Linked DNA regions of Homo sapiens: all the other regions are linked to region 1. The links come from fine-mapping of genetic effects on gene expression. A gene starts in region 1. Each other region holds a variant in brackets. All regions are shown on one strand. Distances are from middle to middle.

Region 1 (8,000 bases):
GGTGTCTGAATACACCCCAACACGGCCCATATTCCCATATTCAGAATGCCGTCCCCAGGACCCGAGGCTAAAGCCCAGCCCCCCCGGCCCTCCCCCAGTCCTGCCCTTCTTCGGTTCTGCCATCCCCAAGCTCATCTCCAGCCCACCCCTGCGATCTGGCCTGCACATGGCCCCAAGGTGCCCCCCAAGGGTGAAGCTGGGTCCCTCCCAACAGCCCTTTCCACCCCTGTCCTCCCACCTGGGGAGTGGGGACACCTCTCCAGGACACCCCTGGCTCTGCGCAGCCTCCTCCTGCCTGCTGGCCAAACCCTGTCTGGTCACCCCAGACCACTGCCACATCCTGGAAGCCCTCAGCCGAGGCCAGGCCCTGGCCCTTCCCCGACTCCCCTGGCCTTACAGACCTCCACATGGGGTCTGCAGTGAGCAGAATCATGGCCCCCAAAGATGCCACATCCCAACCCCGGAGCCTGTGGCGGTGTCACGTTTCCCGGTTCACGAGGACTTTGCAGACATGCCTAGGCTGGGGGTCTTGGTGGGCAGCAATTGCAGGGTTCTTCTAAGAGGGTCAGAGTCAGGGAGGAGATGTGAGGACAGAAGTGGGGCTGGGAGAGAGAACGCCACGCAGCCGGCTCTGAGGACGCAGGAAGGGCTGCAAGGCCAGGAATGTGGAGGCCTCTGGAGGCCGGAGAAGGCAGAAAGTGGGTTCCCCCTTGGAGCCAGCCCTGCTGACACCTTCGTTTTAGCCCCATGAGACTCGCATCTGGCTTCTGACTTGTAGGTTTGTTCCAGCAGCCACAGGAAGCTAATCCTGGCGGTGGCTGCGCACCTGCTACATTCTCCACTCTCTGCAGGCTGAGGGGGGCCGAGACCCTTCCCCAGCCCACCTTGGAGACCCTGGGACTTGGCCCCCAACCTTCGAGGGTACTGCATCCTGAGACAGCAGCTGGCCACACGGGCCCTCAGGCCCAACCCTGCCCTGCGGCATCAGGGGCTGCGCTCGGCCCTCCAAGGATGATGAAGCCAAAAAGAGGAACCAGCCCATAGGCTCCTGGGAGGGTGCTCGGGGGCAGAGCGCTCGCTTCCTTTCCGCTTTAAAGAAGAAAGTTGGGCCGGGTGCGGTGGCTCATGCCTGTAATCCCAGCAATTTGGGAGGCCGAGGCGGGCGGATCACCTGAGATCAGGAGATCGAGACCAGCCTGGCCAACATGGCAAAACCCCGTCTCTACTAAAAATACAAAAAATGGGTCAGGCACGGTGGCTCAACGCCTGTAATCCCAGCACTTTGGGAGGCCAAGGTGGGCGGATCACGAGGTCAGGAGATCGAGACCATCCTGGCCAACATGGCAAAACCCCGTCTCTACTAAAAATACAAAAAATTAGCCGGGCATGGTGGCGGGCGCCTGTAGTCCCAGCTACTTGGGAGGCTGAGGCAGGAGAATGGTGTGAACCCAGGAGGCGAAGCTTGCAGTGAGCAGAGATCGCGCCACTATACTCCAGCCTGGGTGACAGAGCGAGACTCTGTCTCAAAAAAAAAAAAAAAAAAATGAGCCAGGCGTGGTGGCGGGTGCCTGTAGTCCCAGCTACTTGGGAAGCTGAAGCAGGAGAATCGCTTGAACCCGGGAGGCAAAGGTCGCAGTGAGCCGACATCGCACCACTGCACTCCAGCCTGGGTGACAGAGCGAGACTTTGTCTCAAAAAATAAAAATAAAAAAAGCGGGGGGGTGGTGAAGAAGAGAAAAGGGCACAGTGGCTCACGCCTGTAGTCCCAGCACTTTGGGAAGCTGAGATGGGAGGATCACTTGAGCCCAGGAGTTTGAGACCAGCCTGGGGAACATGGCACAAAAATTAGCTGGGTGTGGTGTGGGATGCCTGTGGTCCCTGCTACTGGGGGCTCGGGGCTGAGGCAGGAAGAACACCTGAGCCCGAGAGGTGGAGGTTGCAGATCGCACCACCGCACTCCAGCCTGGGCGACATACCAAGACTCTGTCTCAAAAAAAAAGGAAATTTGGACACAGACAGGGAGGGAAGAAGCCCATGAGAAGACAGAGGCAGAGACTGGTGGCACGGCCACGAGCCAAGGCGCCCAAGGATTGCCGGCAGCACCAGAGGCTGAAGAGGCTGGAATGTCCCTTTCCTAGAGCTGTGGGAGGGAGCAGGGCCCTGCCGACACCTCGATTTTGGACTTTTGGCCTCCGGAACCATGAGAGATAAATGTCTGCTGTTTGAAACTGCCTAGTTTGCGGTACTTGGTTGCTACAAACACAGAGAACACACGTGGTGTCTGGACATGCTGGGCCTGCCCCAAGGCCCCACCGCACGCCTGGGCTCCCTGCTCTGCAGAGTGTGCTGTGTGCCCACCCCAGGGGTCCTCTAATCCCCGGGGTCTGGCCTCCAGTGTCGAAGAGGAGACCAGCAGAGGCCTCCTCCACCCCTGGGTGGGATCAGACAGCCTGGCCAATGTCCACCCTCAGGCCTGGTGTCTCCAGGCCACGGGGACTCCTTAAGGCAAGGCATCTGGGAGATTTGGGAAGCGCCAGTGCTGAGGCAGGGTCTGCTGAGGTTTGGAGGCTGCAGAAGAGAGGGCCCCAGGGTCCCAACACCCCTCCCCGCTGCAGACTAGTACCTCTGGGCCACACAGGCCAGGAGACCCTGATCCCCCTTGCCTTGGCCCAGACCCCAGGGGAGGAAGTTCTCGGCTCCACCTGTCTCGCCCCACTCCTTGGGGAGGGCAGAGGCACCAGGACCCCACCCCGCAGAGGCTCACAGGCAGGCTGGCTGCTCTGTCCATCTTCCTGCCTCGCCTGGGTGGCTTCAAGTGCCCCCACAGGTCCTGATCTAACCAGCGCGGGTCCCTGCCCTGGTCCAGCCCCCATCTCCCTGCAGGAGCTCCAGGCTCCCTGCTCTGACACGTGGCCCTGCCCCATGCTAGCCCCCCTGCTTCAAACCTTCGGAGGCCCCCAGTGCACCCGGAGAGGCCTCGCCCTGCCTGAGGGGTGGAGGGCCTGGGCCTCTCAGAGACTCTCTCTGCCCTCCTTCCACCCAAGTCCAGCCTGGGAACCCTGCCCGGCAGCTCCACCAGCCCCTGTAATCAGCTCTCTGCTGTCAACACCCATCCCGGCCTTTCCTGGTCCCCACCTGGCCACCCTGCATCCCCTCAGGCGCTGCTTGTGACATTCTCCAAACCAGACCCCGTGTCTCATGACATTTGGGACCCCTGGGTCCAGACAGGCCTAGTCCCACCCGCGGCCATGGGCGGACGAATGGAAGGAAGAACAACAATAAAATAGAGACGAGGGGTCTGTGCGACCAGCGACACCTGCTAGGATGGGGGCGGCTGTGGAAGGTGCCTGGGACGCCGCGGACGCAGCCAGGCCACGGTGGGCGCGGCTGGACGGAGCCGCCGGGGACGCGGGAAGCGCCAGCTCCCGGACACCTGCGGACGCCCCCTCTGCCCGCGCCCCGCGCCCCGGCCGCCGGCCTCACCTGCGAAGTTCTTGGTGAAGACCAGGGTGACCAGCAGGATGGGCACCAGCACGGTGCCGATGGTGACCACCCGGTCGAACGGCAGCTCCAGCTTCAGCTGCAGAAGCAGCGCGGCCAGCGCGCCCGCCTTGTCGTCCTGCGCGCCCGGCAGGATCAGCTCCCGCAGCTTCTCTCCCGCCAGCAGCGCGGTCGCCATGTCCGCCGACTGCTCCAGGAGGTGGTGCATGGGGGGCGGGGGGCGCGGCCCGGCGGGGGGCGCGGGCGGGGCGGGGGGCGCGGGGCGGGGCCCGGCGAGGGGGGCGCGGGCGGGAGGGGACGCGCGGCGCGGGGGCGGGGATCGGGGAGCGTGGGGGCGCGGGACGGGGACGGGGCCGCGGGCCGCGGGAGAGGGTGGCAGGGGACGCCGGGACCGAGCGGGGGGCTCCGGGGGATGGGAGTAGCCGGAGGCGCGCGGCGGGTGCGGGGCTGGCCGGGCGCGGAGCCCGCAGCGGGGTTTGGGGGGCGCTCCGCCGCCGCCCCCGGGGTCAGGGGGCGGGCGGGCCGGGCCGGGGCGGCGGCGGGGGGCACCGGAGCCGCCCGCCTCCGCCGCAGCCCGGCCCCCGCCCTGGCGCGTGCCTCCGGCGGGGGCGGCGGCGGGATCCCGGCCCGGAGCGCGGGCGGCGGCTGCTGTCCCTGCCTGGGGCCGGCGGCCCCGCTCCCGCCGCGGGGAGGGGGCTGTTTACCTGCGGCGACTCCGCGGCGTGGCTCCGCCCCACCCCGCCCCCCGCCACGCAGATGCGGCGCGGGCGATGACTTTGCAGAAAATATTGAAATGAAATGAAAGGACATGAATGAGTAATGACCGGTCCCTCTTCCTGGGAACGCGGGGTGGCTGGCGGGGGGCTGCCCCGGCCCGCGGGAGGGTGGGCAGGGGTGGGGGCGGCCCTGCGGGGCTCCGGGCTGGGGCGGGGGCGCCGCTCGGTGGCGACGTGAGGACTGGGCGCGCGCTGGGGCTGCCCCCGTCGCATCGCAGGGCCCTTCGCCCAGCCCAGGGCGCAGAGGGGGCTTCCTCGCCTGGGCCCCCCACCTGCCCCGGCCGCGCCCCGCTGTGGGTCCGGAGGTTCCCGCGCTCCTGGGGTGCTGCGGCCACTGGCGGGGAAGCCGGCGCTCTCTTCTCTGGGCTCGGGCGCCAGTGCGCGGGCAATGAGGGCATCTCCCCGCCCCACACCCTCCACTGCAGCCCCGGCCCCACCCGACCCCCCCACCCAGTACCCCCAGTCCCGCCGCCGTGAGTGACCCCATCACCCCCGCTCCTGCAGCCCGCACCTCCTTCCCCCACGCCCCATCCCGTCCCCTGTTCCACAGACGTTCCCGGGGCCTGTGCCAGCTCAGGGGGTCCCCGCCGCCTCCCTGACCTTCATTCCCTCCGCTCCCCACAGCCCCGCCCTCCGTCCTGTTCTCCCTCGGGGAGCCGGGGGTCTGGCTTCAGACGCGGGCGCATCCCGCGTGGTCCCTGCCTCTTCGAGGCAGCCGTTTTCCCTCGTGCAGGTCCCCTTCCCACTATACCAGGACGAACGTGCACGATCTTTCATATAAAAGATTTAGTGTGATTGGAGTTTTAAGTTCATTCAATAATTCATTCCAAAAATGTATTTTGAGCCCGTGTTCACAGGCCCGGCCACTGCTGTGAGCAAACCAGGAGGTCCCCCTGCCTCCCTGGGCTGCGTAGGGGATGTGTCTGCTTTGAGCTTTCACGCCGTCTGCGTTTTTAAAGATCCTTGCATGTTTTCTGAGGGATGCCAGCCCCTGACTTCCAGCAAACTTCATCCTGAGGCAGGCAGTTCAGCTACATCCAATCCCAGCACCCAACCACCCAGTCACCCCAGATAAACCCAGTCACCCCAAATAACCCAGGCACCTCCAGATAAATCAGCCCTGGCAGATAACCCAGTCACCCTGACAACCCAGGCACCCCAGATAAACCAACTCACCCCCCGATAACAGTCACCCCTACCAGATAACCCAGTCACTGCCAGATAAACCAGTCACCTCCCAAATAACCCAGTCACCTCTCACATAACCTATTCACCCCAGATAACCCAGTCACTGCCAGATAAACCAATCACCCCAAATAACCCAGGCACCCCTCACATAATCTATTCACCCCAGATAACCCAGTCACTGCCAGATAAACCAGTCACCTCCCAAATAACCCGGGCACCCCTCACATAACCTATTCACCCCAGATAACCCAGTCACTGCCAGATAAACCAATCACCCCAAATAACCCGGGCACCCCTCACATAATCTATTCACCCCAGATAACCCAGTCACTGCCAGATAAACCAGTCACCTCCCAAATAACCCGGTCACCTCTCACATAACCTATTCACCCGATAACTCAGTCACTGCCAGATAAACCAGTCACCTCCCAAATAACCCAGTCACCTCTCACATAACCTATTCACCCCAGATAACCCAGTCACTGCCAGATAAACCAGTCACCTCCCAAATAACCCAGTCACCTCTCACATAACCTATTCAACCCAGATAACCCAGTCACTGCCAGATAAACCAGTCACCTCCCAAATAACCCAGTCACCTCTCACATAACCTTTCACCCCAGATAACCCAGTCACTGCCAGATAAACAATCACCCCAAATAACCCGGGCACCCCTCACATAACCTATTCACCCCAGATAACCCAGTCACTGCCAGATAAACCAATCACCCCAAATAACCCGGGCACCCCTCACATAACCTATTCACCCCAGATAACCCAGTCACTGCCAGATAAACCAGTCACCCCAAATAACCCAGTCACCTCTCACATAACCTATTCACCCGATAACTCAGTCACCCCCAGATAACTCAGTCATCCCAGATAAAATCATCATCCCCAAATAACCAAGTCACCCTTCAGGTAACCAGATAAACCAGTCATCTCCTAGATAACCGAGGCACCCCTCAGATAACCCATCCCGTATAACCCAGTCACCCCCAGATAACCATCACCCCAGAGAACCCAGCCACCCCTCACATAACCAAGTCACCCCCCCTCCCCGACAACTCAGTCACTCCCAGATAACCCAGTGCAGTGAGTTCCAGCCCCTCCGAGCGACCCGAGTGTGGCTGCTGGGTGGCTGCCTTTGTTTTCCAGATGCACTTTCTGCTTTCGCATGGGTGCCTCTCCATGCTTTCCAGAAGTGCTCGGCCAGTCCATGCTCTCACCATCCCTGTCTTCTTTCCAGCTCTCAGCCCTATCCACCTTCTAGTATCTGCCATTCTCGGGGGGAAGGGGGGGCGGGTGTAGCTTCCAGGTGCTTTGAGTTTATCTCTAGCGGTTTGTGTGCACGCTCTCTTCAAACCCTGAGCACTGCATCACTGGTCAGAGCTCACTGTAACCCTGAACTCCTGGGCTCAAGCAATCCCCCCACCTTGACCCCCCAAGTAGCTGGCATTATAGATGCACGCCACCATGCCCAGCTTTTTAAAATTGTTACTATTATTATTATTTTTTTGAGACAGAGTCTTGCTCTGTTGCCCAGGCTGGAGTGCAGTGGCGCGATCTCGGCTCACTGCAAGCTCCACCCCCCGGGTTCACACAATTCTCCTGCCTCAGCCTCCCAAGTAGCTGGGACTACAGGCACCTGCCACCACGCCCAGCTAATTTTTTGTATTTTGTTTTTAGTAGAGACGGGGTTTCACCGTGTTAGCCAGGATGGTCTCGATCTCCTGACCTCATGATCTGCCCACCTCAGCCTCCCAAAGTGCTGGGATTACAGGCATGAGCCACCACACCCAGCAATTTTTACTATTATCTTTTGAGACAAGGTCTCACTCTGTTGCCCAACCTGGAGTGCAGCGGTGGGATCTTGGCTTACTGCATCCTCCATCTCCTGGGCTCAAGGGATCCTCCCACCTCAGCCTCCTGAGTAGCTGGGACTGCAGACATGCACCACCACACCTGGCTAATTTTTTTGAGAGATGGGGTTTCGCCATGTTGCCTAGGTTGGTCTCGAATTCCTGGGCTCAAGTGATCCTCCTGCCTCAGCCTCCCAAAGTGTTGGGATTACAGGCATAAGCCACTGCACCTGGCCTTAAAATTTTTTTATCTGTAGAAACGGGGTCTCACTATATTGCCCAGGATGGTCTCAAACTCCTGATCCCCCCACCCCCACCCAACCCAGCCTTGGCCTCCCACAGTGCTGGGATTGCAGGCATGGGATTACAGGTGTGAGCCACGCTGGGACTGCAGGCATGAGCCATGCTGGGATTGCAGGCGTGAGCCACGCTGGGATTGCAGGCGTGAGCCACGCTGGGATTGCAGGCGTGAGCCACGCTGGGATTGCAGGTGTGAGCCACGCTGGGATTGCAGGCTTGAGCCACGCTGGGATTGGAGACGTGGGCCACGCTGGGATTGGAGACGTGGGCCACGCTGGGATTGGAGACGTGGGCCACGCTGGGACTGGAGACGTGGGCCACGCTGGGATTGCAGGCTTGAGCCACGCTGGGACTGGAGATGTGGGCCACGCTG
Region 2 (8,000 bases), 38 kb after region 1:
CCCAGCACTCTACTCTGTCAGCTTTATCCCCCTTGTCCTCCCCACCCTTCCAAATGCTGTCTCTGTACTCAGGTCACTGCACTCCGCCTGGGCTCCCTCTTGGTGCTCTCTGGCCTAGACACTCTCGGAAGGCTGTGAGTTGGGAAAACCATGAGGTCACCTCATTTGTTTCCTCTCTCAGGAATCCCTGTCCTATGATAGCTGATGTTAATGTCTGAAATTGTTGTTCCATATAGTTTGTCTGATTTTTTATTGTTTCAGGAAGGAAGATAAATCTGGTCCCTGAAATTCTATCTTGGTTGACATATGAAATATTCTTGAGTTTATTTTCAATCTAGTTAATCCATAAGAAGATAAAGTTTCAGGTTTTAAAACCTACAGTCAATTAGGAATGTGCCCACCTAAATAGTAACACCTCCCTGATCTCACATGCCATCTGCACCACAGACTCTCCCCGAGAATCAGGCAGTAGAATGAACCAGTAATGAGGTGATGACGGAGAAGAAAAGCACTGTCCAAGGAAGACTCTTTTCTATTTGCAGAACAAAAAAGAGATCAACTATGAAATATGCCACAGATGACTTTCAAGGATAACCTCTTGCTGCTTCATTTGTCGTATTTTCCATGATTGTATAGGCATTCTAAACCTATCATTTTTGCATTTTGGGGGAGGAACTATAAAATGGTGAGCATTTTTGAGTATTAGATATAATTTAAAAATTCATGTTATACATTGAAAACATGCTCATAAAACCAAATTTGAATAGCACAAAATAAGTTGTAAGCTCCACCATGACACAGATGATTTTCTTGTTACTAGAAACATGAAGATAAATAAAACCACTTCTATTGTATTCACAAAAATATACTGAGAGCCCAGGACAATACCTGGCATGTAATAGGCACTATATTACTATTTATGGAGTGACTGGATTATAGAAGCTTTTTTTTTTTTTTTTTGAGATGGAGTCTCGCTCTATTGCCCAGGCTGGAGTGCAGTGGCGTGATCTCGGCTCACTGCAACCTCTGCCTCCTGGGTTCAAGTGATTCTCCTGCCTCAGCCTCCTGAGTAGCTGGGATTACAGGTGTACACCATCATGCCCGGCTAATTTTTGGATTTTTAGTAGAGATGGGGTTTCACCATCTTGGCCAGGCTGGTCTTGAACTCCTGATCTCATGATCTGCCCGCCTCGGCCTCCCAAAGTGCTGGGATTACAGGCGTGAGCCACTGCGACCGGCCTAGAAGTTTTTATAAAATATCTTTGCAACATTCACAAAGTTTGCAAATGTTAACAATTTGCGGGGTGTGTATCCTTCCAGACATTTTCCATGCATACACAATCACATAAATGTACCTAAGTGTACACATAAACCATATAATTTAAAAATAAAACTCTAAGGCCGGGTGTGGTGGCTCACGCCTGTAATTCCAGCACTTTGGGAGGCCGAGGAGGGTGGATCACAAGATCAGGAGATCGAGACCAGCCTGACCAATATGGTGAAACCCTGTTTCTACTAAAAATACAAAAATTAGCTGGGTGTGATGGCACATGCCTGTAGTCCTAGCTACTCTGGAGACTGAGACAGGAGAATCACTTGAATCTGGGAGGCAGAGGTTGCAGTGAGCCAAGATTGCACCACTGCACTCCAGCCTGGGTGACAGAGCGAGACTCTGTCTCAAAAAAAAAAGAAAGAAAAGAAAAAAGAAAAAGAAAAAACCCAACTCTAAGGTCATATAAACATCTGTACTTTGCTTCCCCTATTTAATATATTGTAGCCATCTTAGCCCTGCATCTTAGCCCTTGCATATAAACTTTACACTAAATCTATTTTTGAATATTTTAGTTCACTTTATTTTAACTGCAATTTTGAGTTATTTGTGAACCACACTGCTCTAATACTCCAGTCAACTAAGCGCTAATACTCCGAGAAGGAAACGCCCACCCCCTGTGTAGACAGTTACATCGCTGAGCCATCCCCTGTGTAGAGACAGTCACGCCGCTGAGCCACCCCCTATGTAAAGACAGCCACGTCGCTGAGCCATCCCCTGTGTAGAGAAAGCCACATTGCTGAGCACTACCTTTTTGCTGGTGGACTGTCCACTGCTTTTGGTGTCTTGTGCATGGTTCCAATTTCCCGTCACTTGTGGAGACTGTAAAATAATTTCTTCTGGAAACAACACTTTTAAAACAAAAAATGGTAAGAGCACGGGTATAACTAAAAAGCTAAAAAAATATTAATAGAGGTTGTTTATGGCTGACCCTAAAGCAATTAATATTCTATTCCCTTCCTTTCTTAACCTGCCTGTTATACTGTTTCTAAATTATAGCATTATTAGTACTGCATATTCTTCACAACAAAGCCCTTTATTTGCCCATCTGTAAAAATTCATAAATTACATTTATGAAGGGAAAAGCGAGCAAGATAAATTTATTTTCGGTTATTTAAGCATGCTATTATTAGTTATTCACTAAGTTGAAATAGTAAGAAAACACTAAAACTTGATAGAAAATTAAAAACATGAATATAACAAAAGTTTTACTTCTAATATTATGACTGAAGAGACTATTTTACACAAAATTTTACATGAAGCCTATAAAAATACTCTGTGAAGATGTAACACTATCATTCTATAAAAGTAATACCTTTTACACCTAAGTGGATGACGTGTTCAAGTGCAAAGTGACACCGTCTGCTTGTGGTCCTGCAGGAAAGAAAACCACATAAAATAACTAACCTTACATTCAGAAATATTAAGGCTGGCATAAGGTAATGAAAATTTTATGATACAATCTTTAAGTCAATATAAAAAAATCACAGCAACAATCCAACAATCAATGAAATAGAGAACAGAAAAACACTAGAGAGGACGGGCGCGGTGGCTCACGTGTGTAATCCCAGCACTTTGGGAGGCCGAGGTGGGTGGATCACCTGAGGTCAGGAGTTCGAGACCAGCCTGGCCAACATGATGAAACCCTGCCTCTACTAAAAATACAAAAATTAGCCAGGCATAGTGGTGGTGCACGCCTGTAATCCCAGCTACTCAGGAGGCTGAGGCATGAGAATCACTTGAACCTGGGAGGCAGAGGTTGCAGTAAGCTGAGATGGCACCACTGCACTCCAGCCTGGGTGACAGAGTGAGACTCTGTCTAAAAAAATTTTTGTAAAAACCACTAGAGAATACCAAAGAAGCCAAAAAAAAAAGCATGGGACAAAATCCCACACCCATTCTTTCTTTCTTTTTTTTTTTTTTTTTAGAGACTCTGCTCTGTTGCCTAGGCTGGAGTGCAGTGGCACAGTCAGAGCTCACTGAAGCCTCAAATTCCTGGGCCCATGTGATCCTCCCACCTCAGCCTCTCAAAGTGCTGGGATTACAGGTGTAAGCCACCACACTTGGCCCCATATCCATTCTTGATTAAAAACTCACTAAAATAAGAATCTATCTCCTCAACCTGATAGAGGGCCACTACGGAACCTACCACCCACGCTGTACTAACTCGCTCAGGACTGACAGCCCTGCCCCTAAGACCAGGGACAAAGCCAGTGCAGCACTTGCCACCACTTCTATTCCACACTGGCACACAAGTTCCAACCAGCGCAGGAAGGCAAGGAAAACAAATACACAGCATCCAAATAAGAGAAGAAGAAGTAAAACTGTCTTTGGTTTTTTTTTTTTCAGACGGAGGCTTGCTCTGTCGCCCAGGCTGGAATGAGTAGCGTGATCTCGGCTCACTGCAACCTCCGCCTCCTGGGTTCAAGCAATTCTCCTGCCTCAGCCTCCCAAGTAGCTGGGATTACAGGTGACCACTACCACGCCCGGCTGATTATTTGTATTTTTAGTAGAGATGGGGTTTCCCCATGTGGGCTAGACTGGTCTCAAACTCCTGACCTCAGGTGATCCGCCTGCCTTGGCCTCCCACAGTGCTGGGATTACAGGTGTGAACCACCACACCCAACCTAAAACTGTCATTCTTTGAATCAATGATTATATATGTAGAAAATTCTACAGACTCTAGGAGAAGCTACTGGAGCTATTCAGTTTAGGAGACTTGCAGGATACAAGGTAAACATACAAAAATCAATTGCTTTTTATAAATACTAGAAACAAGCAATTAGAAATTTAAGTTAAATTTACTGTTTATAACAGCCATTTAAAAATTTTAAATAGGTATAACTGACAAAAGATCTATAAGACCTATACACTGAAAAGTATAAAATATTGCTAAAAGAAATGAAAACAGATGCAAATAAATGGAGAGACATACCCTTTTCAAGGGCTGGAGGACT[T/C]ATTATTATTAAGATTTCAATTCTCCAATTCTCCCTTAAACCGACCCATAGGTTCAATGTAATCCCAATCAAAATCCCAACAGGCTTTCTGTAGAGACTGACATGACCTAAAATCCATGTAAGAAGAAAGACCTGGAACAGCCAGACAACCTTGAAAAGGAACAAAGTTGGAGGCTTGATACTACCTGATTTTGAGACTTATCATAAAGGCACATATCATACACTAGGTTTGTGTTCCCCCCAGCTTCGTATGGTGAAACTTCATCCCCAATGTGATGTTACTGGGTATGAGGAGTTGAGGCCTTTGGCAAGTGATTAGGTCATGAGGGTGGGGCCTCATGAATGGAATTAGTGCCCTTACACAAGGGAGCACAGAGAGCTCTCCCATCCCTTCTGCTGCGTGAGGACACAGGGAAAAGACAGCCGCCTACGAACCAGGAAGCAGTCTCACCAGGACACTGAACCTGCTGGTGCCTTGACCTTGGGCTTCCTGACCTCCAGAGCATGAGAAATACATTTCTGTTGTTTATAAGCCACCCCATCTATGGTGCTATGCTAATGCAGCCTGAGTGTACTAAGACAGACAATAAGACCCTGTAATGTTGGTGTCAAGACAGACAAGTGTACAATGGAACACAACAGAGAGTCTTCAGAAACAGATCAACAAATATTTGGTCAACTGATTTTCTTTTTTTTTTTTTCACAAAGGTACAATAGTAATTCATTGGAGAAAGGGCAGTTTTTTCATCAAATAATGCTTGGACAACTGGATGTTCATTCCACCCTCCAATTTCCATTCATACCCCACAAACAATTTGCAAAGCTTAATGAGATAGATCATAATCCTAAATGTACAGGATAAAGCTGCCAAGTTTCTAAACAGGATAAAATCGTTGAGATCCAAATTAGTTACAGATTTCTGAGATGCATCATTAAAAGATCTGTGAAAGAAAACATTCATAAACTGGACTTCACCAAAATTAATAATTTCTGCATTTCAAAAGGCACTATAAAAACAATGAAAATACAAGCTGTAGTCTGAGGAAATATTTGCACAGACACGTATCTGATAAAGCACTGTACTGAAACTATACAAACATCTCTGCAAACTCAATCATGAGAAAACAATTTTTTAAAATGGGCCCAAAGACTTGAGGAAGGACTTCAACAAGTATTTTGTACAAATGGCAAAAAAGCACATAAAAAGATGTTCAGTGGCCGGGTGTGGTGGCCCACACCTGTAATCCCAGCACTTTGGGAGGCCAAGGTGGGCAGATCACAAGGTCAGGAGATTGAGACCATTCTGGCTAACACAGTGAAACCCCGTCTCACTAAAAATACAAAAAAAAAAAAAAAAAAATTAGCCGGGCGTGGTGGTGGGCACCTGTAGTCCCAGCTACTCGGGAGACTGAGGCAGGAGAATGGTGTGAACCTGGAAGGCAGAGCTTGCAGTGAGCCGAGATCGTGCCACTGCACTCCAGCCTGGGTAACAGAACGAGACTCCGTCTCAAAAAAAAGAAAAAAGAAAAGATGTTCAGCATCATTAGTCATTAGAAAAATACAAATTAAATCCACAACGAGATATCCCTTCACACTACAAGAATCAGCTCTGTTCCAGAGTCAAAGCAGGTCAAGGAGTCCAGGCCTGGACGTCGGCTGCAGTCTCTCTAGCTGCCATGATGGAGGCTGTGTGCCTTCTACCAGCGCTGCTGCTCCCTGTGGTCCCAGCCAACCCTCACACGTCATCATCCAACACAGCTGCCCCTTCCTTCCCATTCCTGGGTCTTCTCATGGCACTCACATGCTGGGGTCTCTCATCTTGCACAGCAAACAAAAAGTACCCCCCTCCTGGTCCTCCTGTATCTCTTTGGTCACCAATTTCTCTCGCTCTCTCTCCATCCTGCCCTCCCTGCTTTCATCGGCAAATGCCTTAAAAAGGAATCAACGACATTTCTCCATTCCCCCGTAGTCCATTCATTCATTCTCAATACATTCCAATCTGGCTGTAGCCCAAATACTGCCGATTTCTCAGACAGACATAAAAAGCACTAATATTAAAAAAAATTTGATAAATTTGACTATATTAAAACTAGCACCTTCTGTTAATAAAAAGACATATATATATAAAATTTATTTATTTATTTATTTTTTGAGACAGAGTCTCGCTCTGTCTCAGGCTGGAGTGCAGTAGTATGATCTCAGCTCACCGCAACCTCCGCCTCCTGGGTTCAAGCAATTCTCCTGCCTCAGCCTCCCAAGTAGCTGGGACTGCAGGCATGTGCCATCATGCCCACTAAGTTTTGTATTTTTAGTAGAGACAGTGTTTCCCCATGTTGGCCAGGCTGGTCTCGAACTCCTGACCTCAAGAGATCCACCTGCCTTGGCCTCCCAAAGTGTTAGGGATTACATCACACCCAGCCTCAAAAGATACTTTTTAAAAAGCTAAAAGATAAGGAAGAAATCTGGAGAAGATATGTACCTAAGAATAGTTTATCATAAGGAATACAGAAAGGACTCCCACAACAATGAAAATTGGATAAATTACTCAATAAAAAAGAGGGCAAAAGACGCAAGCAAGCATTTCATGGAAGAGGAACATTTTACGGCCCACGAACAAGAAGATTCTCAGCCTTGTAAATAAGTCAGAGAAAAGTAAATCAAGACCATCATGAGATGCATTACACACCTACCAGACTGGCACCAATTAGGAAGTCGAACAAAATCAGATTACAGAAAGGGCACCGATCAGCAGGCTGTTATACACATGGATACTGAAAGTCACTGATGCAACCACTTGTAAAGCTGGAAAAACCCCAAACCCAGCAATCCCATCCCTACATACACAGCAGCTCTAGGAACAGCAGCAAACAATCGTAACAGCAAACAATGAAGATGTCCATCAACAGAAAAACAGCGGGTATTCACACAACCGCAAACCAATGAACAGCAGTTACAACAACACGGAGACATCTCAGGAACACAATGTTTAGTGAAAATCTCGACTCCTAGGAACCAAATACAGCAAGTTACTCCTTTTCTAAAGTTCAAAAGAATTAAAACTGAAGAATACATTTTTTGTGCATGACTAGTTAATGGTTTTGTGGAGGAAGAAAAAGCCAGCTGGGTGCCAGGTCACAGCACCCCTCATCCGACAAGAAAACAAATAAAAGTAAGGAGCTGGTAGCTGACGGTGACAGTGAGGCATGAACCAAAGATCCGGTGCACATGAGATCTGGGAAAGAATACACATGCAAATGTATGCACCTTTATATCTCAAAAAATAGTTGATAATAAAGCTAGAAACACGGGGTATGCAAAAATGCTGTAGGAGCCCACTTCCATCCACAAGGCCTATACACGTCAACCACAGGCATGGTGGGGGCTCCTACGTCACTACTTAGATGTCAACAGACATACTCAAGAGAACACTGTCCAATTAAAGATAAAGAGACAAATTAACTGGGCATGGTGCCTCATACCTATACTCCCAAAACTTTGGGAGGCTGACGCAGGAGGATCGCTTGAGCCTAGGAGTTTATGACCAGCCTGGGACCCCATCTCTATTAAAAAAAAAAAAAGATGGCCGGGCGTGGTGACTCACGCCTGTAATCCCAGCACTTTGGGAGGCCAAGGCAAGCGTATCACAAGGTCAGGAGTTCAAGACCAGACTGGCCAATATGGTGAAACACTGCCTCTACTAAAAATACAAAAAT
Region 3 (8,000 bases), 44 kb before region 1:
AGGTGTTTGCCCCCAACGCCCCGGATGTGCTGAGCTGCCTGGAGCTCAGGTACAAGGTCAGCAGCAGCCCTGGCCGCGGGGGATGGGACAGGGGCCTGCCTGCCTGTGGGATGCCTGCTGAGCCACGCCTCCTGGCAGGTGGACTGGCCTCTCAACATTGTCATCACCGAGGGCTGCGTGAGCAAGTACAGCGGCGTCTTCTCCTTCCTGCTGCAGCTGAAGCTCATGATGTGGGCGCTCAAGGACGTCTGCTTCCACCTCAAGCGCACAGGTGAGGCCCCGCTGGAGCCCGGCGCCCCGCACCCCTGGCTGGAGGCTGCGCTCACCTCTGCCCTCTGCCTTCTGCCCTCCGCCAGCCCTGCTGAGCCACATGGCCGGCTCTGTGCAGTTCCGTCAGCTGCAGCTGTTCAAGCACGAGATGCAGCATTTCGTGAAGGTCATCCAGGGCTACATCGCCAACCAGATCCTGCACGTCACCTGGTGCGAGTTCAGGGCCAGGTTGGCCACCGTGGGCGACCTGGAGGAGATCCAGCGTGCGCACGCAGAGTACCTGCACAAGGCCGTCTTCAGGTGAGGCCTGGGCAGCGGCTGCGTCCCTGTGGTCACGGCTCAGCCCACCCAGCAGCACTGCTTCCCCCCAGGGGCCTGCTCACGGAGAAGGCGGCGCCCGTCATGAACGTCATCCACAGCATCTTCAGCCTCGTGCTCAAGTTCCGCAGCCAGCTCATCTCCCAGGCCTGGGGGCCCCCTGGGGGCCCGCGGGGTGCAGAGCACCCCAACTTTGCACTCATGCAGCAGTCCTACAACACCTTCAAGTACTACTCCCACTTTCTCTTCAAAGGTGAGGCCCACCCTGGCTGGGAGGGCTGCGGGGGGGCCAGGGCGGGGCTCACACTGTGGGCAAAAGCCTGAGCTGCTCGCTGGTCCCCAGTGGTGACCAAGCTGGTGAACCGCGGCTACCAGCCCCACCTGGAGGACTTTCTGCTGCGCATCAACTTCAACAACTACTACCAGGACGCCTGAGGCTGCTCTGCGGGGGACGTGCACAATAAAGGTGTTCTCGGACCCTGTCTGCAGCTCTCTCTCCTGGGTGGGGGCTGAGGACAGGGCAGGGTGGGGGAACAATGACCACAGAGACAGACTCGAGGGAGTTGCTGGTTTATTTAGGAGCCTGGGTCCAGCCCCCAGGGACCAGGCTGCACTGCTGAGCCGGCCTCAGACAGAGACGGGTCAGGTCCTGACTGGATGTCTCTGCCATCATGGAAAGACGGGTGTGCATGGGCCAGGGCAGAATCCCCCAGTGTATAGGGCAGCCTGGCATCATCTTGGCCACTCAGCAGCACATGGGGGCCTCGGGAGACTCCAGGGGTGTGGAGCGTGCCGAGGCCGTTACGAAGATCATGTCACGCACAGTTCTGCTGCCCAGAGCGGGGGCTTACTGCTGTAGGAGCGCTGCCTGCCGTCCGCCCCGTCGGCTTCCGTGGCCTCGGCGTCTGTGGCGGCCCCCGCCTCGCAGTGGTAAGGGGTCTCCAGTAGTTTCAGCACCCGCCGCACCTGGAGGATCAGGAGGGTGAGAGGGGTCTGGGGCCGACCCCCCTCCCAGGGACCACAGGGACAGGCGTGTGCTTGCCTCTGAGAAGTCCCCGCGCTCGGCAGCCTCGATGGCATTCTGCGCGATGTAGTTCCTCAGCACGTACTTCGGGTTGTTGGCGTGCATCACGCGCACGTGCTCAGCCTGCCAGGCGGCAGCGTCCCCAGCGCCTTCCAGGTCCTTGTCCAGCCGGGCTCTGGAATGACATCCGGGCTCTGGAGTCACAGCCGGGCTGGACTTTTTCCAGCACGCGACCCGCCGTCCCCCGGTGACCATGGACGCAGGGCTCACCTGTACGCCTGTAGCCAGTCAGCCCAGTGGCCCTGGTTCCTGCTCTGCAGCTCTGCCGCACTCAGCTGCTCCAGCCGAGACTGCTGCTCCACACGCTCCAGCTCCCTGGCGATGCCTGCCCGGGTGCCCATAAGCGCGAACAGCTGCGGGTTTGACTGCGCCAGCATCAGCATCATGGATAGCTGCCTGTGGAGAGGCCAGGGTGTCTGGGAGGTAGCCCCTGACCGTGTCCCTGCCCTGCAGGCAGCTGCTCCGCCTGCCCCAGCCCGCTCTCACGGCTCACCTAGAGTCCAAGGGCCCAAGCAGCCCGGTCCCCGAGGTCCCTGGAACCCCACTGGCAGGGATGGACCCCAGTGGGCACACACCAGGCATGCCCATGCTCGGCCAAGGCCCTTTGTGGGCCGAGGGGCAGGACCACTCTGCTGCCCAGCTTTCTGCTGGAGAGTCTCCACCTCCCGAGTTTAATGCTTGTGGGATGGGCACTGCTGTTAGCACTTCCCTCATTTCCAGAAGGGTCCAGGTGGGCAGGGGCCACGCCTTCTCCAGTGGAGGGGGTTTATGCTCAGCAGGGCCTGCTGGCCGGTGCTCCCAGCCAACCCCACTGGTCTTGTTTTTTAAGTTAAAGCAACAATATTTTCCACGTCTCATCCTGCACGTGGGCGGGACTCTTCAGACAGGGCAGCCCTTCCCTTTGGAAGATGGTGTGGGAAAGCTTGACCTCTGGGAGCCCATTCTCCCTAGAAACCCAGAGGCTTTCTCTGAAGCCCACCCACAGCAGAGACCACTGTCTGCCCCCACACCTGTGTCAGCCTCGCCACTCTCTACTCTGTGACCAACCGGCCCCAGCATCGCAGAGATGCCCTGAAGCCCTGACTGAATCTGTCCCTGGGAGCGGAGCAGCCACCTGGGCCCCAGCCAGCTCTGTCTCTAGCTTCTCCCCCAGCCTCTGTTTCTGATTATGCTTCCTTTTCTGGAAACAAATCCAAAGAAGTAGGAACTGAGTACCCACCGGGGATCCATCTGGGGCCGGAAGGCCAGCCTCAGCTCCTCCAGGGAGGCACACTGCTCCATCAGCCTGGCCAGGAATTCCGCCAGGCCTGGCGACTCTAGCTCCACTGGGAAGGAGCTCAGCAAGTAGAAGGTGTTTGTGAAGTCGGCACCTGGAACACAGGCTGCTCAGGGAGCTGGAAGCAGAAGGCCCAGGGTCCCTGTCCTGGTGCCACACAGACCCCCCCCCCCCCACCCCCCTGGCACAGGTGCTGCATGGACCCACCCACATGCTCCACCACCGCCCCCCACCGCCAGCACGGATCCACACGCTCCCTGACCCACACCCTCCACCTGGCACAGTGCCATACAGACCCACACCCTCCCCCAGCACAGGTGCCACACGGACCCACACCTGGCACGCATGCCACAGAGACCCACACGGACCCAAATGCTGCCCCCAGCACAGGTGCCACACAAGCCCCGCTCAGCATTGGTCCTGGGACTCCTGAGCCCTCCACACCCCACTCCTCAGCCTCCACCCATCCACCGCCCAGGCAGCTGCCATTTGCTCACCCTCCAAGTCACCTGTGAAGTGGCCTAATACTGAGAAGGCAGAGGCTGCTGCCCGGCCCTCACATCCTCACAGTCACAACTGCCTGCTTTGGGAGCTAGCGAGTGTTGAGAAGCTGCTGTAACCCGCCTGCAAAAGGCCCAACTTGTGACAGACACTGCGATCCTCCCCCTGACTCTGGAAAACACTGTCTGAAACCACAGTGACCCTAAGACTGTCTTAAAAACAAAATGAGAAGGGAGTCAAAGCAACGTACTGCAAAAAAGTCGACTACACACAAAGGTAGCAAGGGAGAACGTGAGCGACCAGAAACATGGCAGAAGCTCCCCCTCAGTAACTGCTTTGAAAGCGAATGGACTGATCGCTCCAACAAAAGGCAGATTGGCAAAGTGGGTGAAAAGACGATTTCCATGTTGTCACCACACGATCTGCAAGACGTTCAAAGACACGAACAGGCTGGAAGTGAAAGGATGAAGAAACCCAGGCAAAGAGTAACCTAAAGAGAGCTGAGGCGACTCTTAAACTCACAGCAGATAAGTTTTCTATTTTTTGAGACGGAGTCTTGCTCTGTTGCCGGGGCTGGAGTGCAGTGGCGCAATCTCGGCTCACTGCAACCTCCGCCTCCTGGGTTCCAGCAATTCTCCTACCTCAGCCTCCCGAGTAGCTGGGATTACAGGCATCCGCCACCATGCCTGGCTAATTTTTGTTTTTTGAGATGGAGTCTTGCTCTTGTTGCCTAGGCTGGAGTGCAGTGGCGTGATCTCAGCTCACTGCAACCTCCGCCTCTCCTGCCTCAGTCTCCTGAGTAGCTGAGATTACAGGCACCCACCACCATGCCTGGCTAATCTTTGTATTTTTAGTAGAGATGGAGTTTCACCATGTTGGCCAAACTGGTCTCGAACTCTTGACCTCAGGTGATCTGCCTGCCTCGGCCTCCCAAAGTGTTGGGATTACAGGCATGAGCCACCATGCCCGGCCAGAGAAGATTTTAAATAAAAAATTGTCAGAAGGGCCGGGAAAGGTGCTCACCCCTGTAATCCCAGCTACTTGGTAGGCTGAGGCAGGAGGATAACTAGAGCACAAGAAGTGGAGGCTGCAGTGAGCCGCAGCTGTGCCACTGCACTCCAGCCTGGGCAACAAAGTGAGACACATCCACCCTCAACAAAAAGTCGTTACAAGAGACAGCATTATATATGGATAAAAGAGTCAATTCATCAATAAAAATGTAAAAATTATAAACATGCACCCAATAAGAAAGCCCAAAAATGTAAACGTTGGCAGAATGGAAGGGACAGACAACAAACAGTTCTATCTATAGTAAGAGTTGGAGACTTAAACACACCACTTAATAATGGATAGACCATCTAGGGTTGGGAGCGGTGGCTCATGCCTGTAATCCCAGCACTTTGGGAGGCCGAGGCAGGTGGATCAC[G/T]AGGTCAGGCGATCAAGACCATCCTGGCTAACACGGTGAAACCCCGTCTCTACTAAAAATACAAAAAAATTACCCGGGCGTGGTGGCAGGCGCCTGTAGTCCCAGCTACTCGGGAGGCTGAGGCAGGAAAATGCCGTGAACCTGGGAGGTGGAGCTTGCAGTGAGCTGAGATCGCGCCACTGCACTCCAGCCTGGGTGACAGAGCAAGACTCCGTCTCAAAAAACAAAAAAACCATCCAGACAGAAGATCAATGAGAAATGGAAGACCTGAACAACAGCCTAAACCAACAAGACCAAACAGGCACATACACGGAACCCTCCACCCAGCAGAAGAGAGCACACCGTCTTCTCCAGGGCACACGGGTACAGGACGCTCTGCCCAGCAAAAGAGAGCACACCGTCTTCTCCAGGGCACACAGAAAGTTCTCCAAGATAAGCCACAAAACAAGTTGTAATAAACCTCAAAAGGCTGACATCTCTAGTCACAATGGAATGAAGCTAGAAATCACTTAAAAACACAACACACTGGCTGGGCGCGGCGGCTCATCCCCAGAATCCCAGCACTTTGGGAGGCTGAGGCAGATCACTTGCGATCAGGTGTTGGAGACCAGCCTGGCCAACATGGTGAAGCCCCATCTCTCCTAACAGTACAAAAATTAGCTAGGTGTGGTGGAGCATGCCAGTAGTCCCAGCTACTTGGGAGTCTGAAGGAGGAGAACCACTTGAGCCTGGGAGGCGGAGGTTGCAGTGAGCCAAGATCATGCCACTGCACTCCAGCTTGGGCGACAGAGTAAGACTCCGTCTAAAAACCAAAAAAACCCACAACATACCAAAATTGATGGACACAGCAAAAGCAGTGACCAGAAAGACATGCACAGTGTAAATGGCTACACTGAAGAAGATCTCCAATCAGTTACCTCAACTCACGCCTAAGGAACTGGAGAAAGAAGAGCCAAGATTAGAGGGAGACAATAGACTGAAGAAACAGGCACACGCTGCGTAACTCCACTTACACGAAGATTAGAGGGAGACAATAGACTGAAGAAACAGGCACACGCTGCGTAACTCCACTTAAACGAAGATTAGAGGGAGACAACAGACTGAAGAAACAGGCGCACGCTGCGTAACTCCACTTACACGAAGATTAGAGGGAGACAACAGACTGAAGAAACAGGCACACGCTGTGTAACTCCACTTACATGAAGGGTTTAGAGCAGTCAGGTTCACAGACTCGGAGCGGAGTGGTTGCTACCAGGGGCTGCAGGGAGGGGAATGGGGAGCTGGTAACCGGCTCACACAGGGTTTGGGTGGCGGATGTGAACAAGCTCCAGGGCTCGGCTGTACAGCACTGCTCCTGCGTCAGCTGTGATGTGCGGTGCCCTCCACAATTTAAGAGGATAGATCCATGTTGTGTTCCTACCACAATGAAATTGTAAAAAACTGCTACGAACAATTATATGCCAAAATTACCTACAAGACATGGACAAACTACCTGACACAGAAAATTCCTGGAAACATAAATTACCAAAACTGACTCAAGAAGAAAAGAAAATCTAAATTGAGGTAAGGCAAGCAAGGAGACTGATCAGTAATCAAAATTTTTCCAACAAAGAAAAGCCCAGGACCAGATGGCTTCACTGGTGATTTCTACCAAATACTCTTACGAACAAATGGCAATCCTTCTCAAACTTTGAAGGAAAAAAATGGAAGATGTGCGCATACCTCCTAACTCACTCTGAGGCCAGCACCACCTTGACATCAAAGCCAAACAGACACTAAAGAAAAAGCAGAACTCTAAGCTAGTATCCCTTACGCATACAGATGCAAAAATCCTCAAAATACTCGCAACATTCAGCATATTAAAATAATTATACAGCATATGGCTGGGTGCGGTGGCTCACGCCTATAATCCCAGTACTTTGGGCGGCTGAGGTGGGCAGATCACCTGAGGTCGGGAGTTCAAGACCAGCCTGACCAACACGGCGAAACCCTGTCTCTACTAAAAATACAAAATTAGCCGGGTGTGGTGGCGGGTGCCTGTAATCCCAGCTACTTGAGAGACTGAGGCAGGAGAATCACTTGAACCCAGGAGGTGGAGGTTGCAGTGAGCCAAGATCGTGCCACTGCACTCCAGCCTGGGCAACAAGAGTGAAACTCCGTCTCAAAAAATATTAAAAATAATAATCATATAGCATATTAAAAGGACCAAGTAAAATTTATCCCCAGAATGCAAGGAGATATGAATGAAATAATAAAACCACATGACCATCTTCATTGCAGGAAAAAGCATTTGATAAAATGCAATAGCTTTTCATGGTAAAAGCATTCTGAAAGAAAACTTCAGCATGGTAAAAGCCCACAGCTAACATCACACTCAATGGGTGAAACACTGAACACTTTTCCCCGAAGGTCAGGAACAAGAAAAGAATGCCCATCTCAGCTCCTTCTGTTCAACATACACGTCCTAGCTAGTGCAACCCAGTGAGTCACCCACACGACCCAGCAATCCTACCACCTGTACACCCCACGGAACTGAAAGCAGGGAGTCAGAGATCTCTGCATTCGCTTTCATGGCAGCACGGCACACAACACACAGTGCACCGTACGCAACAGCCAGAAGAGGAACACGTACGCCAGTATGTCGTGGATAAGCAAACTGCGGCCTGTCCACACAACGGGATGCTTCTCAGCCTTCAAATGGAATAAAATCCTGATACGGACCTGGGTGAACATTGAGGACCTTATGCTAAGTGAAATAAGCAGTCACTACAGAACAAGCACCGTATGACTCCACTCGCAGCAGGTCCTAGATTCACCAAATTCATAAAGACAGAGAGTAGAATGGGGGTGCCAGGGCTGGGGTGGGCCCAGGGAGTGACTGTGCACTTGGAACCTGGAAGCCAGAAGGTAAACCATCTCTAAGCACAACAGCACGGGAGGCGCCTTGCTGTGGGCACGGCTGGGTCACTCACCGGTCAGATGCATGGTCTCCAGGAGCTTGGACACCAGCGCCCCGTCTTCCTCCAGCTCCACCTGCACGAGGCCCAGCTTCCTGCGCATCTTCTGCAGGTAGTGCCTTTGGAACTCGGCGTCAAACTCCTCGGCCAGGATGGCCTCCCCCAGCT
Region 4 (8,000 bases), 72 kb after region 1:
ACCGCAACCTCTGCCTCCCAGGTTCAAGCGATTCTCCTGCCTTAGCCTCCAGAGTAGCTGGGATTACAGGCATGCACCACCACGCCCAGCTAATTTTGTATTTTTAGTAGAGACGGGGTTTCTCCATGTTGGTCAGGCTGGTCTCCAACTCCCAACCTCAGGTGATCCGCCCGCCTCAGCCTCCCAAAGTGCTGGGATGACAGGTGTGAGCCACTGTGCCAGGCCTGATGCTAATTATTTTCTTTGTTCACTTGCTTACTGTCTGTTCTCTCAAAATGCGAATTCTCTGAAGCAGTGTCTAGCACAGCAAGCACTCTAATAATTTGTTGAATTAACGTCAAGAAGGAAACAGCATCTTCTGACTCTCCCACAAGCAAATGAAAAATTTAGCATAATTCTTCCTTTTGCCACCTTTAGGTCAGAAGTTATAAATAAAGTTTTATGAGGACACAGCCGCACCTTTTGCTCATGTACAGCTATGTCTGCTTTCAGCTACGTGGTACGACCATCCTGTGGGGAGGAGCTTTGAAGGAGACGGTGCTTGACCGGTTTGCTGATCTCATTAGATACTCTGTATCAGCCTTTTTGCACATTGTATTTTCTCTTTCAAAAAAGTTCTTTTGCTGTGGTCCTTAGGTTTTGTGATTGTGTTCACAGCAATTCTGACATGTCTGAGTGTGACTCTCTCAGCCTCAAGAGGACCTGACTTTGCCTCACTTGAGGTTTTTTATACTGGGAAATCCCTTGGCCTGGGCTCCGGATCCCTGCCCATCTTTATTACTCAGGGGACACCTTCTCTTCTCTGCCCCATCAACATCTGCAACATCAAACATTTCTGGTTTTCTTCCTCTTGAGCCATTTCCTGGCGACACCCCTGAGAGGGGCTTCCTGTTAGCAGGGTTGAGGGGCCTCCATGATTATAGGCGCCTTTCCCCAGAACTGAGCGTTTCTCTGGCAGCACAGAGATTCTAAAATCCCAATAGACACCTATCAATTTCATCTTGGGGATCCCAGGGTTAACAACCAAGGTCAAGGCTGGGCACAGTGGTTCATGCCTATAATCCCAGCACTTTGGGAGGCCGAGGTGGGTGAATCACCTGAGGTCAAGAGTTCGAGACCAGCCTGACCAACATGGCGAAACCCCGTGTCTACTAAAAATACAAAAATTAGCCAGGTGTGGTGGCACACAGCTGTAGTCCCAGCTACTCAGGAAGCTGAGGCAAGAGAATTGCTTGAATCCAGGAGGTGGAGGTTACAGTGAGCCACCACTGCACTCGAGCCTGGGCAACAAGAGCGAAACTCTGTCTCAAACAAAGAAAAAAAAAACAAAACCCACAAAAGGTCAGGCGCAGTGGCTCATGCCTGTAATCCCAGCACTTTGGCAGGTGGATCACAAGGTCAGGAGATCGAGACCATCCTGGCTAACACATTGAAACCCCGTCTCTACTAAAAATACAAAAAATTAGCCAGGTGTGGTGGCGGGCACCTGTAGTCCCAGCTATTCAGGAGGCTGAGGCAGGAGAATGGCATGAACCTGGAAGGCGGAGCTTGAAGTAAGCCAAGATTGTGCTACTGTACTCCAGCCTGGGAAACAGAGGAAGATTCCGTCTCAAAACAAAAACAAAAACACACATACACATAAAAACCAAGGTGAAAAAGAGTGAGACAGCAGCTTCCTGGTGGGCAGAGCTACCCCCCAGACCTCCCACCCCCCAGCTTAAAGCAGAAAACTTCTATTCATCTTCCAACAGGCAGTGCTGTGGGCTGTGCAAATGGACTTCAGCTCAGAAGCCACTTCCCCAGGCAGCTTTTCCAATTCCTGCCCTACCACAATGTATGCACAGGTCTGTTTCTCCTGGGAAAGAAGAAACAGACCTGAGTATGGAGTCCAGCTCCGTCTTCACCACCATAGGCAGCAGGAGTAGAGTAAACCGCTGCTGAGTTCAGCTCAGTCAATGACATCGACATATTCTTTCTTTAGGTATAAAAACAAATCCTTTGATCAGCCAAAAACAAATGCAATAAAAAATGGATATATAAAGCCGGGAGTGGTGGCTCACGCCTGTAATCCCAGCACTTTGGGAGGCCAAGGCGGGCAGATCACAAGGTCAGGAGTTCAAGACCAGACTGGCCAACATGGTGAAACCCTGTCTCTACTAAAGACACAAAAAGTTAGCCTGCTGTGGTGGTGGGCACCTGTAGTCTCAGGAGGCTGAGGCAGGAGAATCGCCTGAACCCAGGAGGCGGAGGTTGCAGTAAGCTGAGATCGTGCCACTGCACTCCAGCCTGGGCGACAGGGTGAGACTCCATCTCAAAAAAAAGAAAGAAAGAAAGAAAGAAAAAGGATATATACTTTAGGAAACGTACAATGTCATCCCCAAGCCCTATTTTAAAACATCTAAAGTACTTTAAATAGTACCTCAGCATGCCAGTAACACTAACTTAGATCATAACACTATAATTATATGGAAGCAACAACTACCCAGAAATTACTGACTGCATTTAACAAATGAACACAAAACACATAAAAGCACAAGTTTAAACAGTGACCTGGCTGGGTGTGGTGGCTCATGCCTGTAATCCCAGCACTTTAGGAGGCCGAGGCAGGTGGATCACCTAAGGTCAAGAGTTCGAGACCAGCCCGGCCAACCTGATGAAACCCCATCTTTACTAAAAATACAAAAAATTAGCTGGGCATGGTGGTGCACACCTGTAATCCCAGCTACTCAGGAGGCTGAGGCAGGAGAATCAATCAAACCCAGGAAGCAGAGGTTGCAGTGAGCTGAGATCATACCACTGCACTCCAGCCTGGGCAACAGAGTGAGACTCCATCTCGAAAAACAAAAACAAAAACAAAAACAAAAAAAACAAAACAGTGACCTGGTGCCCTCTCCCATAGTCCACTCAATATCCAAGAGCCTCTGTGTGAAGCCAGCACCTGGAGAAGCTACTCTAATCCCGAAACCCTCTCAACAAACAAAGCATGCCCAAAACTGATCCCTTCAATGTTGTGTGTAGCCATCACAAATATAGACACAGGGTTGTGTTCTGTCACCCAGGCTGGAGTGTAGTGGCTGGATCATAGCTCACTGCAGCCTCCAACTCCTGGGCTCAAGCGATCCTCCTGTCTCAGCCTGACAAAGTGCTGGGATTATAGGCATGAGCCACCGTGCCTGGTCCATAACAATTCTTTAAAAGACAAAACCTAATTTTCAATGTGGAACACAGACCCCTGAGCATACCTTCGCACACACTCTCCAGAGAGAAGTAGGTGGTCTGACTGATACAGCCTGCGCCCTCCACCAGGGAAGTCACACAGCCAATCAACACTCGGGGGCCGCAGTCTGAGGGACTCCCATGGTTTCTGCTGTC[G/A]TCTTCCCACTTATCAGAGACAGCTTCTACCTGTAAAACAAACACACCGCTCTAAACCATAATACGAGAACTACAAGAAAAGCAAACTACAGGCTGGCATGCCTGTCTGAGACCATTAGGGCTGCAAGTCCAAGATCAAGGCCCTGGCAGATTCCGGGTCTGGTGAGGGCCTTCTTCCTGGTATACCGTCGGTGTCTTCCTGCTGTGTCCTCACATGGCAGAAAGGGCAAAGGGGTTCTCTGGGGTATGTTTCATAAGGGCTCTGCCCTTGTGACCCAGTCACCCACCAAAGCCTCCTAATAAGATTCCACTGGGGTCAGGATTTCAACATACGTATTTTGGGGGACACCAACATTGAGTCTATAGCAATCCCTTATGAACACTGATGCAAAAATCCTCAATGAAATATTATCAAACCAAATGCAGCAGCATATTAAAAGGATTATACCCCATGACTAAGTGGGGTTTATCCCAGAATGCAAAAGTGTTTCAACATATGAAAATCAGTCAACATATTACATTGATAAGATGAGGGAAAAAATCACGATGATCTCAACTGATGCACAAAAAGCATTTGACAAAATCAACACTTTTTATGATGCAAACACTCAATAAACTAGGAATCGCAGGAAATCTCTTCAACACGAGAAAGGCCATAAACAAAAATCTCACAACAAACACCACACTCAATGGTGAAAGGCCGAAAGCTTTCCCCTAAGATCAGGAACCAGGCAAGGATGCCCATGCTTACTTCAAGACTTTCAAATTTCAATTATCTTTATTCACAGATGGTAGGATCTCATCTGTGGAAAACTCTAAAGATTCCACACACGTAAATGAAACAAAAAATGGTTAGAGCTAATAAATGAATCCAGCACAGGACACAAAGTCAACATACAAAAATCAGATTTCCATACATTTGCAATGAAAAATCCAAAAAGGAAATCAAGAAAAATGATCCAAAGAAAGGGAAAACAATTCCATTTATAACAGCACTGTTAGGTTAATAGGTTAATTCCTCAGAACACTTAGTAACCTAACTAAGGAGATGGAAGACACGTAAAATGACACTAATGAATGAATTAAATACCTCAATAAACAGCAAGACAACCGCGTTCATGAATTGGAAAACCTAATATTATTAAAATGACAATCTTAAGACTTAATTATTAAGATGATAATACTACTCAAAGTGATTATGTGATTATTAAGATGTTAATCTTAATAATTATTATTAAGATGTTAATCTTAATACTTAATTATTATTAAGATGACAATCTTAGACTTAATTATTAAGATGACAATACTACCCAAAGTGATCTATTACACAAATTCAGGTTGGGTGTGGTAGCTCATGCCTGTAATTCCAGCACTTTGGGAGGTTGAGGCAGGTGGATCACTTGAGGTCAGGAGTTCAAGACCAGCCTGGTCAACATGGTGAAACCCCATCTCTACTAAAAATACAAAAAAAATTAGCTGGGTGTAGTGGCAAGCACCTGCAGTCCCAGCTACTTGGGAGGCTGAGGCATGAGAATTGCTTGAACCAGGGAGGCGGAGGTTGCAATGAGTCAATATCACATCATTGCACTCCATCCTGGGTGACAGAGCAAGACTCTGTCTCAAACAAACAACAAAAAAACCCAACAAATGCAACGCAATCCCTATCAAAGTCCTATGGGTCTATTTTTATATAAATAGAAAAACTCATCTAAAATTCTAATGGAATCTCAAGGGACCATGAATAGGCAAAATGGTCTTGAAAAGGAGTAACAAAATTGAAGGTTTCATACCTCCTGATTTCAAAACTTCCTACAAAGTTACAGTCATCAAACTAGTGTGGCACCAGTGTAAGGACAGAAATATAAACCAATGGAATAGTAAAGAGACCCAGAAATAAACCCTTGCATGTGCAGTCAATTGATTTTTGACAAGGACCATTCAATAAACTGCAATTGTGCAGTCTCAAAAAAAAATAGTGCTGGGAAAATAACCATGGGCAAAATAATAAAGTTAGACTCTCGTTTTACACCAAACACAAAAATTAACTCAAAATGGATTAAAGAGGCCAGGCGTGGTGGCTTACCCCTATAATCTCAGCATTTGGAAAGGCGTGGGATGGGCGGATCACTTGAGCCCAGGAGTTCGAGACCAGCCTGGGCAACATAGAGAGGCCCCATCTCTACAAAAAATACAAAAATTGGGTGAGGCAGCACACACCTGTAGTCCCAGCTGCTCAGGTGGCTAAGGTGGAAGGATCACTTCAGCCTGGGAGGTTGAGGCTGCAGTGAGCTGTGACTGTGCTGCTGCACTCCAGCCTGGGCAACAAAGTGAGATCCTGTCTCAAAAAATTTTTTTTAATGAATCAAAGACTTTAATTTAAAAGCAAAAACTATAAAACTCTTGGTAGAAAAAAATCTTCATAATCTTGGATTAGTCAATGGTATCTTGAGTGTGACATCAGAAGTACATGCAATAAAAGAGACAAATTAGACTTCCACCAAAATTTAAAACATCTGTGCATCAAAGGATACCATGAAGAAAGTGAAAAGACAATTGATAAAATGAGAGAAAGTATTTGCAAATCATGTATGTGATGAGAGATTAATATCCAGAATATATAAAGAATTCCTACTACAAGAAAACAACCTAATTTCAAAACGGGCAAAGGATTTGAGTAGATATTTCTCCAAAGAAGATATATAGATGGCCAATAAGCACATGAAAAGATGCCCTCACAAATCATTAGGGAAATGCAAATCAAAACCACAGTGAGATACTACCTCACAACTACGAGGAATAGCTACTGTCAAAAGAAAAAAAAAGAAAAAGAAAATAGCAAGTGTTGGCAAGGATACAGAAAAAGTGGCAGCCTCATGCACTGTTGGTGGGAACATATAACGGTGCAGCTGCTGTGGAAAACATCTGGTTCCTCACAAAGTTAAACCTAGACTTACCATACAGCCCAGCAATTCTCTTCCTAGGCGTAGCCCCAAAAGAACTGAACAAGGACTCAGACAGACTTGTTCATGGCAGCACAATTCACAACAACCAAAAAGTAGAAACAACCCAAGTGTCCATCAACAGATGAATGGAGAAACAAAATGTGATTTATTCACACAATGGAATATTCAGCCATAAAAAAGGAATTAACTTTTGATACATGCTACATGGGCAAATCTTGAAAACAGAAGTCAAATAGCCAGACACATGATTCCGCTTATATGAGGTATTTAGAATGGGCAAATTCATAGAGACATAAAGTAGAACACTGAATAACTGTTTAATGGGTACAGAGTGTCTACTGGGATGCTGAAAAAGTGCTGAAGACAGATTGTGGTGATGGCTGCGCAACAATGTGAACGTGCTTAATGCCACTGAACCGTACATTTCAATATGGTTAAAATGGTATATTACGCATATTTTACCACAAGAAAAATATCTAAATAAAAAATAAATCCAGAAGTACATTCAGGTTTATACCAAATGGGGATCATTCCCATCAAGTGAGAACGGCTCACAACACAGAAACTGTATTTTCCACCATATTAATAGCAAAGGGACAGAAACTATGGGATCATTTGGAAGATACTGAAAAGTACTTGAAAAATCCATTACTAATTTATAAAAGCAAGATTGTGAGTAGAGATGAACCCTCTTCACCATAACAAAAAAGGTCCTGCATTCCTTACAAGATGGAACAAGTGAAGGGCAGCTGACCACCAAGAGGGCTGGGATTTGCTGGACACCCAGGGGCCAGTTTTTCCACATTGTCACATTTCTGAGATCAGAATGAGTCTCACAACCTACGTTTCCATTTTAAATTTTCATTATCAAATTAATGGTGTATCTTAAAATCAACGGGAATTTGGTATGAGAACCTGCTTTGGAAGGCCGCGTGTGAGTACACGACCACAGCTCAGAGAATGAGGTAAACATCATCTCTACAGGTTCTGGGTTCCAGATCCTCTTTCAAAGATTCTGAACCCAGAGTACTCCTTTAAATACACACAAAAACATGAGGACTATCGTATAATTTCAAGTTCAAAAGGAAATCTTTGGAGGAAAAAATATAATTAAATAATTGGGAGAGGAAAAGAGGGTAGTGTGAATGAGCCAGTTGTACATCTCTGATGATGGAAGTCCATAAATACTAACATTGGTGAATTAATAAAAGATACAAGCATATTGTTTAAGTGACTCAACTATCTACCAGATAAGGTAGAAACAGAAACCCAGAAGAGCATCAGGTCTGCAGCATGAAAGTGCAGGTGGGGAACGTGGAGGGAGGCTCTTCTACTTTGCATTCACAGTCTCTAAGCCAGAGCTGACAGAAATGTTCTCTATGTGTGCTGCCCAATTTGGTAGTCACTAGGCTTCAGTTAGCACTTGAAATGTGGCCAGGGAAACTGAGGAAACACTTTTATTTATTTATTTTTAAGAGACAGGGTCTCTATGTGCCCAGGCTGGTCTCGAACTCCCGCCTCAGCCTCCCGAGTGCTGGGACTCCAGGTTTATGCCACCGCGCCTGGCTGTAAGTTGCATTTAGTTTTAATAAATCGAAACTGCTGCACATGAGTGGTGGCTACCATATTGAATGATGGAATTCTAGACTTTGAATTATTTTATTG

Direction of the effects. Alleles are on the strand shown, and positions count from the first base shown. SD is a standard deviation of normalised expression in the study named. Not every link is listed here.
In carriers of allele T in region 2, the expression in testis of the gene that starts at base 3,709 in region 1 tends to be lower than with C alone (small effect, 0.34 SD a copy in GTEx).

What was found.
Region 2: its variant is fine-mapped to the expression of PANX2 in testis (GTEx, PIP above 0.99).
Region 3: its variant is fine-mapped to the expression of PANX2 in whole blood (TOPMed, PIP 0.98).
Region 4: its variant is fine-mapped to the expression of PANX2 in whole blood (INTERVAL, PIP above 0.99).

What each region holds. Positions count from the first base shown.
Region 1 is chr22:50,166,440-50,174,439 of GRCh38, reverse strand. PANX2 (pannexin 2) reads right to left here and starts at 3,709. Exons shown (of 3, transcript NM_052839.4): 1 at 3,484-3,709. The coding sequence starts at 3,709. RefSeq lists an enhancer at 2,184-2,876 and a silencer at 4,476-4,535.
Region 2 is chr22:50,128,711-50,136,710 of GRCh38, reverse strand. It overlaps MOV10L1 (Mov10 like RNA helicase 1), which reads right to left. Exons shown (of 27, transcript NM_018995.3): 14 at 2,646-2,704; 15 at 2,081-2,181. Among named protein-coding and RNA genes, the nearest start is that of PANX2, 38 kb to the left of the region's middle. The variant T/C (reference allele first, on the strand shown) is at 4,288.
Region 3 is chr22:50,210,759-50,218,758 of GRCh38, reverse strand. It overlaps SELENOO (selenoprotein O), which reads right to left. Exons shown (of 9, transcript NM_031454.2): 5 at 7,848-8,000; 6 at 2,892-3,042; 7 at 1,883-2,068; 8 at 1,631-1,787; 9 at 1,143-1,554. The coding sequence ends at 1,390. TUBGCP6 (tubulin gamma complex component 6) reads left to right here. Exons shown (of 25, transcript NM_020461.4): 21 at 1-56; 22 at 139-271; 23 at 357-570; 24 at 642-841; 25 at 932-1,065. The coding sequence ends at 1,023. Among named protein-coding and RNA genes, the nearest start is that of SELENOO-AS1, 4.6 kb to the right of the region's middle. The variant G/T (reference allele first, on the strand shown) is at 4,876.
Region 4 is chr22:50,094,845-50,102,844 of GRCh38, reverse strand. MOV10L1 (Mov10 like RNA helicase 1) reads right to left here. Exons shown (of 27, transcript NM_018995.3): 3 at 3,243-3,402. Among named protein-coding and RNA genes, the nearest start is that of MOV10L1, 8.8 kb to the right of the region's middle. The variant G/A (reference allele first, on the strand shown) is at 3,373.